Linked DNA regions of Homo sapiens. The protein of the gene in region 3 binds, or shares a complex with, the protein of the main gene of each other region. Each region holds a gene or a part of one and is shown on either strand. Other genes may lie near its edges.

Region 1 (3,500 bases), on a different chromosome or scaffold from region 3:
CAGTGTTCCTGGGTTCCACACACTGTCTCTGGACTATTCCATCCACTTCTCTTGGCTTCATATACTTACTTATTTGGTCCCTGTCTACTTGACCAGGCTCGTCTTCTCTCTCTTCAGCAAGCTGCACTCCAGCCATACCAACACTGCCAAGCTTGTTAAACATATCTGGCTCTTTCATGCTTCCTTACCTCAGTTTCCACTGCTGGCATTCTCCTGTCTTATTGATCTATCTGGGAAACTCTTAATCATTCTTCTTATATTGTACCTTTTTCTGTGAGAAAGTTTTTTCTGACTCCACTGAGTAGTTACTCAGTGTGGTGCTGAAAACCAAATGTCCAAAACCACCTTGTATTGTTAGTGTCTTTCTGGTTGTCTCACTCCATATATATTGTAATTATATGGTCTTCATCCTTGATTTCTCCCTTTTGTTGATGACTTCCACCTCTCCCCCAGTACTTGGCACAGTTCTATGTATGTGTGTGTACGTGTACATACACAACAGAGAAGGTTTTTAAAATTTTTTGTACATATATTCACTATATATACGTGTGTGTATATATATACACTATATATATTCACACGTGTATATATGTGTATATATTTATCTTTCTATATGTGTGTGTGTAAAAAAAGTTTTTTAAAAACCTCCTACATTGTATAATGATAGAAATCAAGTTTGGTACATTATTACTTGACCCTACTCATTTCATTTAGATAGCACGTAGCCTAACCTAATAAATGACATCAACTAGTTACTTGGTTGTATTTCATTTAGTAATTTAATATATGAAAAATCTGAAAAATGACTAAGGATTTTACCTTTTTATCTTTAAGCAATGTGTTCTCTTTTGTTTATTTTTTTCCTTTTTAGAACTCTGCAGCCATTCTTTGAAGGATTATTACCCCGAGATAATCCAAGAAACACTCGGTTTGCCATCAACTTCTTTACTTCTATAGGTCTTGGAGGTTTAACGTAAGGATTATTCTCAGAATTTATGTTCAGATTATAAAATTATCTCATAATTGTCTTTGAAATAGAATCTAACAGATTATATTTTAAATTAGGGATGAACTGCGGGAGCATCTCAAAAATACACCAAAGGTCATTGTGGCGCAGAAACCAGATGTTGAGCAAAATAAATCCTCCCCATCCTCTTCCTCTTCAGCGTCCTCCTCTTCAGAGTCTGACTCATCCGACTCTGATTCTGACAGCAGTGATAGCAGTTCAGAGTCTTCCAGTGAAGAGAGCGACTCTTCATCCATCAGTAGTCATAGCTCTGCCTCAGGTATTGAAGCTTATGTGTAATTTGGCTTGCTCTTTTCTAATAAATATGTTGCTGATATATATGAAGGAAGAAAATAATTTGATTGTTTATTTGTCTTAGAGATCAGTTGTTTAAAAGCCACAATTAATACAAATGGTCCCATCTATCATTCTTGCAGTCTGTAATACAACATTTATAATGCTGGGATTACCTTTTGACATCCTCATCATAGAAATGAAAATATTTCATTCGCAGATACTTATCTGAGTGATGACTGATATGAACCATCCATTCATAATGTTTGTAATCTAGTTTATAGGAGCTATCCTGATGTTTTTATTTTAAATAAATTTTAGTTTTTTACTTTTAATATTAAAGCTGTTTGTAATTGAGATATATCATACATTCATTGTGGATCTCAGATGCTATATGAATTTTTATAAAGGGAACACATCCTCATAGCTAGCACACAAATCAAGATATACCGGTACCCCAGAAGTTCTCTGTGTTTCCTCTCCCAGTTACTACTCCTTCCATCCTCATGGCAGCTACTATTCTGATTTGTAATTTCATAAATTAATTGTGCCTGTTTTTACCTTTAGCATTATGTATTATGGACTCCTTTTTATGTCTGGCTTATTTTTTTACCATTATGTTTGTGAGATTTAGATGCATTACTGCATTTAGTTATAGTTAATTCAGTAATATTGCTATGTAGTTTCCTACTATATGAATATACCACAATATATATTTATCATTTTTGCTCAACAGACTTTAGATTTTCAAGTGATATTTCCATGTATATTCTTGTACATATCTTTTGATGACCTTATTTATTTATTCACATTTCTACTGGGTATGTACCTATAGGTGGAGTCAGTGTGTCATAAGATGTGCATATATTTAGCTTTGGTGAATACTGTCAGTTTTCCAAGTGGTTATTCCTATTTACACTCCCACCGGCCATGTATAAGAGTTTCATTAGCTCCCATTCTCATTAATACTTCAAATTGACCGTCTTTTTCATTTCAGCCATTCTGGTGGATGTGTAATGGTACTGCATGGCGGTTTTAGTTTTAATTTGCATTTCAACTAGAGAAGTTAAATGCCATTTTATCCATTATTGGCCATTTGGATTTTTGTTGTCAAGTGGCTGTTCAAGTATTTTACCAATTTTTTTTAGTTAAGTTGTTTTCTCTGTTGATTTGTAGGTTTTCTTTACATATTCTAGATATGATATCTTTTGTACATATATGTATTGCAAATAACCAGTCCCATTCTTGTCTCTCTAGCCCTGCAAGGCTACCAGACCTCTGGTGTCTCTGTCCCTCAGTAGCATCCCTGAATCAGCAGATGCTCCCAGGGAGAAAGTAGCTGTAGAACATCACTTACTTCTCAATGTTTCTGCTTTCTCCTGCATCTTGGCCCCTCTAGTACTTGTTTTTCCACTAGCTCTCTGATGCCTTTATATTTTTTACTTTGTAACTGTAACCTTTTATTCTGAGCTAATTTTAGATTTAGGAAAGTTGCAAAAACAGTACAGAGAATTTCCATATACTCTTCATTCCAACTTCCCCTAATGGTAGCATCTTACATAACACTGGTTCATTTATCAAACTAGGAAATTAGCATTGGAACAGCATTATTGACTAGACTACAGATGTGATTTGAAAACCAGTTTTACCACTAATGTCGTTTTTCTTATTTCAGGATTCTGCTAGCATTTAATTGTATTCTCAGTTTTCTGCATTCTATGATAGTTCCTCTCGGGCTTTCCTTGTTCTTAATAGCTTTAACACTTTTGAAGTCCTCTGGTCACTTATTTTGTAACCTGTCCCTCAGTATGGAGTTTCGTCTGATGTTTTCTCCTTATTAGAATGAGATTAGACATTTTTGGCAAGAGTACATTAGAAACAATGTGTTGTTCTTAGTGCATCTTATCAAGAGGTTCATAATTTTATTTTGGGTGACAACCTTGATCACTTGAGTAAGGTGGTGTCCACTGGATGTCTTCAGGGAAACTATTTTTCTCTGTGAAAATGTCTTGTAGGGAGGTAACTTGATACTATGCAAATCTCTTTTTCCTCCAGCTTTTACTCACTAATTTTAACATCCATCTTTGGATGGTTAAAAAATCACCTAATGGTGATTTTTTATTTGTCTGTTTTCTTCTACATCTAGTAATTGAATTTCTTCTATAAGAAAGTATTGTCCCTCTTCCCTCATTTATTTATT
Region 2 (3,500 bases), on a different chromosome or scaffold from region 3:
TCAGGAGACAAGAATACTACATGCACTGCAAGGCTTAGTCAGTTACACAGAAAGATGCTCAACATGTGTATCATCTGATGCAGCAATTACACTCAAAAGAATAATGTCATCCTTAATATATAATCTTGCTTTCTTATAGCAAGAATGGCAATTCCTACTTAGAACATTAAAACATTCTTATTATTTCTCCAGTAAAAGAAACTTTTGAGTTAAAAAATAGAAATATATAGATTTTAATTGCATAAATATTTAATGTTTTTAGGTCTAATAGAAAGAAGCAGCACCGAGGACTACCCTAATATTAGTGTAGGCATCTGTACATGATAGTAGCCAATCAATTTAATGTAGTTTATGTGGTTTTGGGGATTGTAGATATTCCTCTTTTATCAGTTAATGTTTAGTAATCATCTACTGTAATATCCACATTATAGGCCAACAAAAGGAGAAGGAATCATTGGGGTATAATAATTAAGGCTCAGATATGGCCCACATATACATTAACCAAGGAGAAGTACCAGCTGAAGAGCTCAGAGCAGAACTCTGGTTGGATTCCATAATGTATAAGCACGAAAAAAAAACACCCATAAATAAGTTATAAAATACATGTGTTATAGAAAATAAAGAGCATGATTTCAGAATATCACCTAGCATATAAAACACAGGCCCATATACATAATATTGATACCCTCACAAATATATATATAACACAAGCCCATATGTGTGTGTTTATGTGTGCATGCGCTTACACGTCAGGAGAAACTGCACATGGGAACAAATGTGGGAAAGTGCACAATGAGCAACAAACGTGGGCACCTTTGGAAAACAGTGCAGTAAAGTCATCACTGATGCAGTACACAGAAGCATAACAAGCTGAGCAGATCAATATGACTGGGATATAAGACATGTTTCTATCTCCAATTCCATTTACATTCAAAAAAGGCAAAAGAACAAACTATATAGCTTTATTTTTGTATATAATCAGTACAGTTTTTTCTGTATCCAGTCTTTCCTCAACTCCAAACAGGCTTTTTGTCCCTCCTTCCCAACACCAAAATGCTCTTTCCTGACATTAGTATTTGTCCTCGATGATCACTCCTCTCCTCCTGAAACACTTTGTTTCACTTCTTTCAGTTCTCCTCCCTTCCCAACTGGCTGCTCCTTGTTAGCCTAGACTTTTTCATTCAAAATTAACTCAATCAATATTTATCAGGCACTTGTATAATGTTTAGAGGCTGGCTAGATGATTAGAACAGGTACTGGTAACTAATAATCTACCTAACCTCTAAACATACCAAGCTCAGTTCTGACTTCTCCTCTCTAGCTATACCCTTCCCTAGGTGACTTCATCCTGTCTTATGGCTTTAAAAAGTTTATCTGAGCTGATAACTTCCAAATCTACTATCTCCAGCTTGGACTAATTCCCGAACTGTATCAGGAGTACTGCATCACTCCAGAGGGGAGAGCAGTCAGCAGTACTGCATCACTCCAGAGGGGAAAGCGGTCAGCAGTACTACATCACTCCAAAGGGGAGGGCAGGTAGCAGTAATGCATCACTCCAGAGGGGAAAGCATTCAGCAGTACTGCATCACTCCAGAGAGGAGGGCAGGTAGCAGTACTGCATCACTCCAGAAGGGAAAGCAGTCAGCAGTACTGCATCACTCCAGATGGCAGATAACAGCAGTAGAGGTGGTGAAAAATAACGAATATGGTTTAAAAATTAAGCACTGTGGTTCCTTGACGAATGCATATAAAATAACAACCAATCTTCCTCCCTCAGCATTTCCTGTAAGCTTTTCTGTTTTATTTTATATATCACCATCTGAAGGATTTACAGTATTTACAACTTATATTTTCTCCCTTTTCAGCCCTCCTTTTTTACCCCTCCAAACACACACACACTGTACAGAATTTAAAAAGCAGGCCTAGTACTACAATCCTTAGAAATGCCTGCTTGCAAGGCTGGCCCCTGGCTGGCATTTGAAAATTTGGATCTAAGAAATCTTCTGTCACTGTGCCTATAATTTACAAATAATGTGGTTTACACTGAACACCTACTATCCTTTTAGGAGTCTGGACTTTGGTATGTGCTAAGCAAAAGCTGCGTACATGACTAGCCACTCCCAGTAAAAACCTTGGGCGCGGGATCTTTAATGGGCTTCCCTGGGCAGAAGCACTGCACACGTTGCTGCACTGTCCTTGCTGGGGGAAACAATGTGCTGTGTGACCACTCATGGAAGGGACAGAGCATAGTGACACCTGCACATGGATTCCTCTATTCTCTGTGTGTGTCTTTTCCCTTTATAATCTAGCTGTGTGTCTTTATTACCTTAGCCAAGCATATTAACTATACACCAAGTCCCCTGAGTTCTTCTAGTGAGTGTCTGAATGTGAGAGGCCATCTTGAGGACCCTTGATATGCACACCTAAAATGTAAGGGCCTCAGTTTATTACTCTGTCCCTAGTGCTTACATCATTATCTAGTACACAGCTGGTTATTGCAACTATCTATTGAAAATAAGTTTATTTTCTTTCATTTGGCTTCTTCCATTATTCCTAATTGAACAGAGAAGAGTATCAGTGAATGGACGGTGGACTTTTAGAAGCTTTTTACAATGCACCTTGCTATCCAACTTATAATCTGCATGCCTGTGTGTATACACATACACATATACACACACACACACACACACACACACACACACACACACACACTCCATTACTCCGTTACTGTATAGTACCTTCTTTTAACTTTGAAGTTGGCCTGAGGCTGGGATGGGCCAGTGAGATTAAGGAGAGGGTTTCCGCTCAGAATGTTTTCCATACGAATCCTCTCTTCTTCAGCTTTTTGTTCTTGTTCCTGTCAATGATAAAGGAAGATTAACACTTACTTATTTTAACTCTGGGTTCAATTTTTTTTATATTAGCTCACTGAAAAAAAAAACAAAACTGATCATTAGGATTTTATGGCAACAAAAGCATCAAGGCAGGCTTTTTTTTTTTTTTTTTGGTTTTTGAGGCATACTAGAAAAGTCTCCCTCATCAAAATAAAATAATTTAGCATTTTTATTATAAATATTTCATGGTTGATATCATACAGTAATTAGTCTCTTCCAACTGTGAAATGCTACAGATCCATATTTAAATCTATTTTCTTTCTTGAAGTACATGTCAAATTAATTGCTTTAAATTTTAAGCATATATCAATAAGCATATTCTAATAATTTAAGAACATATTGAATATCAAAAAGACACATTTAGCAAAACTATTACCTTCATTTTAAAGGGTCATACCTAACTGTGATTAATTTTAATCTTATTTTGAATTACTAATAATGTAAACTTGTGTCTCTAGGTTTGGTGACAAGTTATGAATGAAGAAGTAACTCCTAAAATAGGACAAACTACCATATACAAAATTATATCCAGTTAACATGAATTTCTACTAATTTACCTGAGGTTGATCTATTTTGTTTTTATTGTCTTACTGAGTTTTTCTTTTT
Region 3 (3,500 bases):
AGAACTACCTGGGGAGCTTTTAACAAAAATGGCAGGCCTGGGCTCCACTCTCACAGATTGATTTAATTGGCTGAAACCACTGCTTTAATATTTTGTATCTACAGTGATATAAAATGTCTGTTCATTGTTTAAAGCAAGTATTAACAGTTTAAAGCAAATAAAATGTTAGCCAAATTCAGTTATTTCAACAGAGAACTGTAGAAAAACACATCAAAACACTAAAAAGTGAAAAAAAATTACAGTACTATTGTTCCCACAAATAATTCTCCATTTAATCCTATAACCAAATCGTGTCTTAGAATAGTTTTTTAAAAATAACCTTACCTCTTTAAGTTTATGCCGAATTAAATTCGCCGTTGTATTCAATGAGTCATCGTGCATATCCACTTTAGAGATGTCTGGTAACAGAGGTCCAATCATAATCTCATTACCAGTTGGGTTTGTTTGAAGAAAAGTTCCAAGTTTACGATCATCTTCTCTTCTTCTTTTGCGCTCCTGCAGTTGTGTTGTCCTAGGCATAAATCTGTCAACTGCCTCTGAAGACGTAATAGCCTTTTGTGCACCAGGGCAGGCCACTGAGTTTTTCAAAGAGTTTATCTGTGTTTTCCGCAAAGAGTCATTGTGGTTATAATGCCCCATTGTTTTATGATGGTTTCTACCATCCTTAGAGGAGTCTGGTGCTCTGTCTACAGGTCCCCCGGATGAACACATACATTTTGAGGAGAAATAACATAAAGGCAATTCACAGGAATACGGAAGATAAGGATTTGAGTTCCCTGCAGAAGTGTTCAAAGCAGCTTTACAAAATCCAGACATCTCTGAGTGGAAGTCTTGTCTAAAATCCTCTGTGTCTTTATGCTCTGTAACCAATTTCTTCTTTGTCACGTAATGGTCTTTATATTACAATTTAAAAGTTGAGGGAAAGGGAAACAGAAGTGGTTTATTGTTTTCATCATTCAGAATCATATAATTTAAAAAAATCACTTAAAAATGTTAACAAATTCTACTCCAAAAAAATCATTTCTTGAGAAGGGTATATATTCACATGGTTTAAAACCTAAAACGGATAAAAAGATATATAGCATCAAGTGTCACCCTTTCCTTGCTCTCCATGGGTCTGGTTTCATCCCCATAAGTAATCACTATTGTTTTTTATTTATCTGTTCAATATGTCTCACTTTGCCACCTCCTTCCTCCCATTTTCTCCCCACTTTAAGATAACCTGTAATACGCATTTCTCTGCACCTCTGCATTTTCCATTTCACTGTAGATCTTACAGAGGTTTTTCATCATTATATAGAAAGGTTTTTTTTTTTTTTTTTTTTTTACAATTTCAGAGTATTCCACTATCTGGATGTATCATGCTCCTTGGCTTGTGTTTGTTAGTCACTAAAGAAAGCAATATGCTTGTCGCACTTCTAGGGCTGGCAAGGGCCTCTTCCCTGGTTTACTCTCCCAAAAGCAGATTACAACAGGAATGGAGTATGGAAGATGTGGTAAAGATGAAATTGGCTATGTGTTGATGATTGTTAATGTTAATATTAATACATGGGAGTTATGTTAACTTAGTCTCTCTGCCTGTGTGTTTTGAAATTTCCATAATAAGAGTTTTTGAAAAGTAAGACCACGTATACAAATGCATCTTGTAGAGGCTAGAATGCTGCAGATGAAAGAGAGCTTAACTAAAGTGTCCAAGGCCAAACAAGTCATAGTTTAATTCTGAGGTCAGCAGCACAGCAAAAAGGTCTTAAGAGGAAGGGGAGCAAATAATGAAGATAATCCTAGGCTGTCACCAACACTGAGATGATTAAAGCAGTTAAAAAGTAAACTCTGGACAGAGTCCAAAGCTTGGGTTTTAACCCTTATTTTGTCTTTAATTCATCTCTAATAATATAGGCAGGTCACAAACTTTCTGAGACTTAGTTTCCTCACCCAGAAAAATTAGGACCCAGGTCAGATAATGTCAAAGGTCTTTCTCCACATTAATATTTTATAATTTCCTTTGCCACACAAACATACAAGTTTTCCTGGTGCTATTTATTTACTTATCTTACAAGTTAGAGTTCAATGTCTGCAGATGACTGGGGATTCTCAACAGCTCTCTTACCAGATTTCTGAGTAAGTTTTCCAAGAGTTTTCCCACTTTATTTCTCTCCATCACTATGTGGTAGAACAGGCATGTGGGGGCATTTAGCCAATTGCTGGTCAAAAGTAGAACTTCTCCATGATTAGCAGTGACAACTATATGATTTGACAACTGCAAATCATAACTGCTTCTCACTGCATTCTGGTCAAAGCCTTAATTCCTTAGCATGGGACACAAGGCCCTCCATGATTCACTTCTTACCCACTTTTCTAAACTTATCTCTCACTGAAACCTTTGGGCTTTGGTTATACTGTATTAATTAAAGTTCCTTAAATGCATGATGCTCATTTATTCCTCTAAACATTTAAACATCTTGCCTGGCTTGCCTTTCCATCTTTTCCTCTCCCATTTAGTTAACGTCTACTTATCCTTTAAAATTCAGCCACTTCTCACATACTATAGGAAGTCTTCTATGAACCAATATTTCTCCCTTCTCAACCCAGATTATGTAGTGTGCTGCAGAGAACCCTGTGGTTCACAGTTACTGAATACTGTGATGGTTTACTTGCCTCTCCTACCACTAGACTGGGAATTGCATGATGACACACCTGGCAGAGTGCCTGACACACAGGAGGCATTTAGCAATATGCTTTCCATACCTTTATTTTCAGTAGTTTTTACTACATATGCCTTCCGCATTTGTAGTTTTTTTCTAGTTTCTTCAACTGTTTCAAATTCTGGAGCATAGCACACATGAAGCAATCCACCGAAGAAACTCTGTTCATCCATTTTTCTCTTGGCTGTCCTGAATGGAAATACAAGATAGCATAGTTTTTTAATCTAGATTTACTTGGGATGAAAGCTTAACTAGTATGCAATATCTGGATCTAAAGAGCAAAGTCCAGCTTTTGCTACGTGTATATATATCCTGTGGATTGGGAATTAAGATGCTCTGCTTGTGGACAGTATTCATCCCATTGATCGAGTATGTACTCGTAGAGCCTCCCCTTTCCTTCCCTTTGAGCCTCTTTGTTCCCTAGTCTTTAAACAACTAAGGACCCAGCTGGTTGGCCTGAAGTATGTAAACTGTGGTCATAAAATGGAGCTTTTCTCTGTGGCCCTGAAGAGTTGGTTCATACCCAATTAAGCTTTTTCAGCACTATGTATTTCTGTGATGGGATTCATGCCTTAAAAATCAGATGAAAGATACTATAATCATAAAACATTCAATAACTGAGGAACTATTAAATATATAACAATGAGAAAATGAGAAGAATGTTATTCAGTCAATAAATACTTACTAAACATCTATGACTGGCCAGGTACTACAATAAATTTAACTACTTCTATATCCAGGGATAATGATAAATACTTGTTGAGATTTCACCATATGCCAGGCAATGTCATAAGCGCT
Region 4 (3,500 bases), on a different chromosome or scaffold from region 3:
ACAATCTAAAGGCAGCCCAAATCTTGTTCTTTTTGAACGAAGTGCATGCAAAAAGTCTTGTAATTTGGACTTTGGCATTTAGAACAACATTTCCCACAGAAATAAGATTATGTCTGGTGGTTATGTTCCCTCGCAAGGCCACAAAGATGATATCCCATGCTGCTATTCAACTATAGCCCTAATAGCACAAGTCCAGGTCCACAGCCCTAAAAACAAGAGACTATTTAGTCCAGAAAGGAGAAGGAAAAATAATTCCCTCCTTTTCAGAACAAAGGTAACTATGGGCAAACTTACAGGGAAGAATATACAGAAAATAGAACTAAGAGTTAAGTAGTCAGGTACAAGATATGTAAAGAAAGAAACTAGCTTTCTCTCATGCCAAAAGTGAAAATATAATAGTAAGTTTTTAAATCCTACTTCCATAGTTAAAAAAAAAATTCAATACCTAGAAATAAACTTAAGAAACATGAAAGACATATAAGAAGAAATCTGTAAAAATTCATTAAAATAAATGTTTTTTAAAGATGTGAAGAAATGGAGAAACATACCATGATTTCTTGAAAAAGATAGCAATGAAAATCAGCCTAGGCCAGGCATGGTGGCTCAAGCCTGTAATCCCAGCACTTTGGGAGACCGAGGCGGGTGGATCACCTGAGGTCAGGAGTTCCAGACCAGCCTGACCAACATGATGAAACCCTGTCTCTACTAAAAATACAAAATTAGCCAGGTGTGGTGGCACATGCCTGTAATCCTAGCTACTCAGGAGGCTAAGGCAGGAGAATCGCTTGAACCTGGGAGGCAGAGGTTGCAGTGAGCCGAGATCACGCCATTACACTCCAGCCTGGGCAACAAGAGTGAAACTCCTTCTCAAAAAAAAAAAAAAAAAAAATTCAGCCTGGTAGAAAATGTTTGCAACACAAACCATACAGTAGTCCCAGGGGGATACATTTTAAGTATGGTGGATGGCTGAAACCACGGATAGTACCGAACCTGACTGCCATCAAATGCAACACATTTCTGTTCATGTCTTCCACCCATAAATGTAATGCCTTTTCCATCTTAACTAAGCACTTGTGAACTGTGGCTATAACTTTTACAGTATGAGGTACAACAGCAAAACTAGCATGAATTTCTTTTTCCTTCTCCACAATTTCACAATAGAAGATTCATTCTTACTATCGATCTTAGCAACTTCAATATATGATTTGAAAAGTTTTTTTTTGTTTTAATTTCTTTAAGTTGAGAACTTTCAACTTTTCGTTTAAAGGAAGCACTTTACAGCTTCTCTTTAGCATTCCTAATTGCCAAAATCACTACTATTGCATTTTGGGGCCACTACTAAATAAAATAAAGGTTACTTGAATCCAAGCACTGCAAACTGCAACAGTTTTCTGAAAATCAGGATGGCTACTAAGTGATGGACAGGCAGGTAGCGCATACAGCACAGATACACCAGACAAAGGAAGGATTCACGTTCCTGGTGGGACAGCAGAAGTTTATACCAAGTGACTCAGGATAGTGACCAATTTAAATTTTATGAGTTGTTTTTTTCTGGAGTTTTCCATTTAATATTTTCAGATGCAGAAAGTGAAACCACAGATAAGGGGAGACTACTGCATATTAATATATCAATAAGAAATAATTCAACAGAGAAACTGATAAATGGTCAGGTGCCAGTGGCTCACACTTGTAATCCCAGCACTTTGGGAGGCCAAGGCGATGGATCGCTTGAGCCCAGGAATTTGAGACCAGCCTGGGCAACATGGCGAAACTCTGTCTCTACTAAAAATACAAAAATTAGCTGGGCACAGTGGTGCATGCCTGTAGTCCCAGCTACTCGGAAAGCTGAGGTGGGAGGATCGCTTGAGCCTGGGAGGCAGAGATTGCAGTAAGCCAAGATTCCACCACTGCACTACAGCCTGGATGACAGAGCAAGACTCTGTCTCAAAAATAAAAAAAGAACAGAAAAATGAACAATTTTCAGAAGAAATAAATGTCCAAGGGCCGGGCACAGTGGGTCACGCCTGTAATCCCAGCACTTTGGGAAGCCAAGGCAGGAGAACTGCTTAAGCTCAGGGCAACATGGCAAAACCCCATTTCTACAAAAAATACAAAAATTAGCCAGGCACGACAGCATGCACCTGTAATCTCAGCTATTTCGGAATTTGAGGTGGGATGATCACTTGAGCCCAGGAGGTCGAGGCTGAAGTGAGCTATGATCATACCACTGCAGTCCAGCCTTGGCAACAGAGACCCTGTCTTGAAAAAAAAAAAAAAAGAATTACATGTCCAATAAATACATGAAGATATGCTTACCCTAATAACCAAAGCATCAAATTCTAAAAGAAATATGAATTTTCTCTCCTTAATTAGTAAAATTAAAAAGATCAATAATATCTAGAGTCAAAAAAGAAGGTACAGGAAAAATGGGTATTTTCAGCCACTGCTGGTACAGGTATAAACTAGCATAGCCTATTTAGGTCAATTTGACATTATTTAATCAAAATCTCATCAACCACTAATGCCACTTATAGAAATCAATCCTACAGAAATACTAGCAGAAACGCACAAAGACATACATATGAATGTGTTTACTGTAATTTCGTAATTTAAAAAAAAAACTGGAAACAACCTAATGTCCTGCAATGGTAGAATGGTTAAATTATTATCTATTCATACAAAGGAATACTTCACAGCCATGAAAAAGAATGAGATAATGACATAGAAAGATATCTAATATATTGTTAAATGGGAGGGGAAAAAAGAGAAGGGGCAAGTTTCACAATAAGACCACATATTTCTATATATAGACTTGGCAGATGAGCTACTTGGAGAGATGTTCCCACTATAATTTAACTAGATACTTATTAAATTTTTAATGCACTGTTGGGCTTTCAATAAGCAAGGCAAAATCTCCAATGAGAAAAAAAATCTCCAAAGGGGGGTAAAAAAAAAAAAAAGATTTGAGCCCTAAGCATAAGCTCAAATACTAAAGAATACTAGACACACACAAGGAAATGGAAACAAGCCACTGAGCATGAGAGGCAGCAGAAACAAGTCTTATAGGCTGGGCATGGTGGCTCACGCCTGTAATCCCAGCACTTTGGGAGGGCAAGGGGGGGGGCAGGTCACTTGAGGTCGGTCAGGAGTTCAAGACCAGCCTGGTCAACATGGTGAAACCGTCTCTACTAAAAATGCAAAAATTAGCCAGGTGTGGTAGCGCATGCCTGTAATCCAGCTACTCGGGAGGCTGAGGCAGGAGAATCACTTGAACCCAGAAGTGGAGGTTGCAGTGAACAGAGATGGAGCCACTGCATTGTAGCCTGAACGACAAAGAGAGACTCCGTCTCAAAAAAAAAAAAGAAACAAGAGGCCGGGCGAAGTGGCTCACGCCTGCAATCCTAGCACTTTGGGAGGCTGAGGTGGGTGGATCACAAGGTCAGGAGTTCAAGACCAGCCTGGCCAAGATGGTGAAACCCTGTCTGTACTAAAAATACAAA

What was found. Proteins that work in one complex are often made in the same cells at the same time.
Region 1: RBM48 (region 3) and CWC22 share a complex: the UniProt entries of both Homo sapiens proteins name them as parts of the minor spliceosome.
Region 2: RBM48 (region 3) and CWC15 share a complex: the UniProt entries of both Homo sapiens proteins name them as parts of the minor spliceosome.
Region 4: RBM48 (region 3) and SNIP1 share a complex: the UniProt entries of both Homo sapiens proteins name them as parts of the minor spliceosome.

The regions. Positions count from the first base shown.
Region 1 is NC_000002.12:179,948,298-179,951,797, reverse strand, and holds part of CWC22 (pre-mRNA-splicing factor CWC22 homolog), read left to right. Parts: intron 1-871; coding exon 872-973; intron 974-1,065; coding exon 1,066-1,286; intron 1,287-3,500. UniProt on the Homo sapiens protein: Required for pre-mRNA splicing as component of the spliceosome. As a component of the minor spliceosome, involved in the splicing of U12-type introns in pre-mRNAs. Promotes exon-junction complex (EJC) assembly.
Region 2 is NC_000011.10:94,963,557-94,967,056, forward strand, and holds part of CWC15 (spliceosome-associated protein CWC15 homolog), read right to left. Parts: intron 2,858-3,500; coding exon 2,739-2,857; intron 1-2,738. UniProt on the Homo sapiens protein: Involved in pre-mRNA splicing as component of the spliceosome. Component of the PRP19-CDC5L complex that forms an integral part of the spliceosome and is required for activating pre-mRNA splicing.
Region 3 is NC_000007.14:92,531,795-92,535,294, reverse strand, and holds part of RBM48 (RNA-binding protein 48), read right to left. Parts: intron 2,892-3,500; coding exon 2,746-2,891; intron 1,058-2,745; exon of another isoform or gene 894-1,057; coding exon 325-893; coding exon of another isoform or gene 211-324; exon of another isoform or gene 1-210. UniProt on the Homo sapiens protein: As a component of the minor spliceosome, involved in the splicing of U12-type introns in pre-mRNAs.
Region 4 is NC_000001.11:37,540,794-37,544,293, forward strand, and holds part of SNIP1 (smad nuclear-interacting protein 1), read right to left. Parts: intron 1-3,500. UniProt on the Homo sapiens protein: Required for pre-mRNA splicing as component of the spliceosome. As a component of the minor spliceosome, involved in the splicing of U12-type introns in pre-mRNAs. Down-regulates NF-kappa-B signaling by competing with RELA for CREBBP/EP300 binding.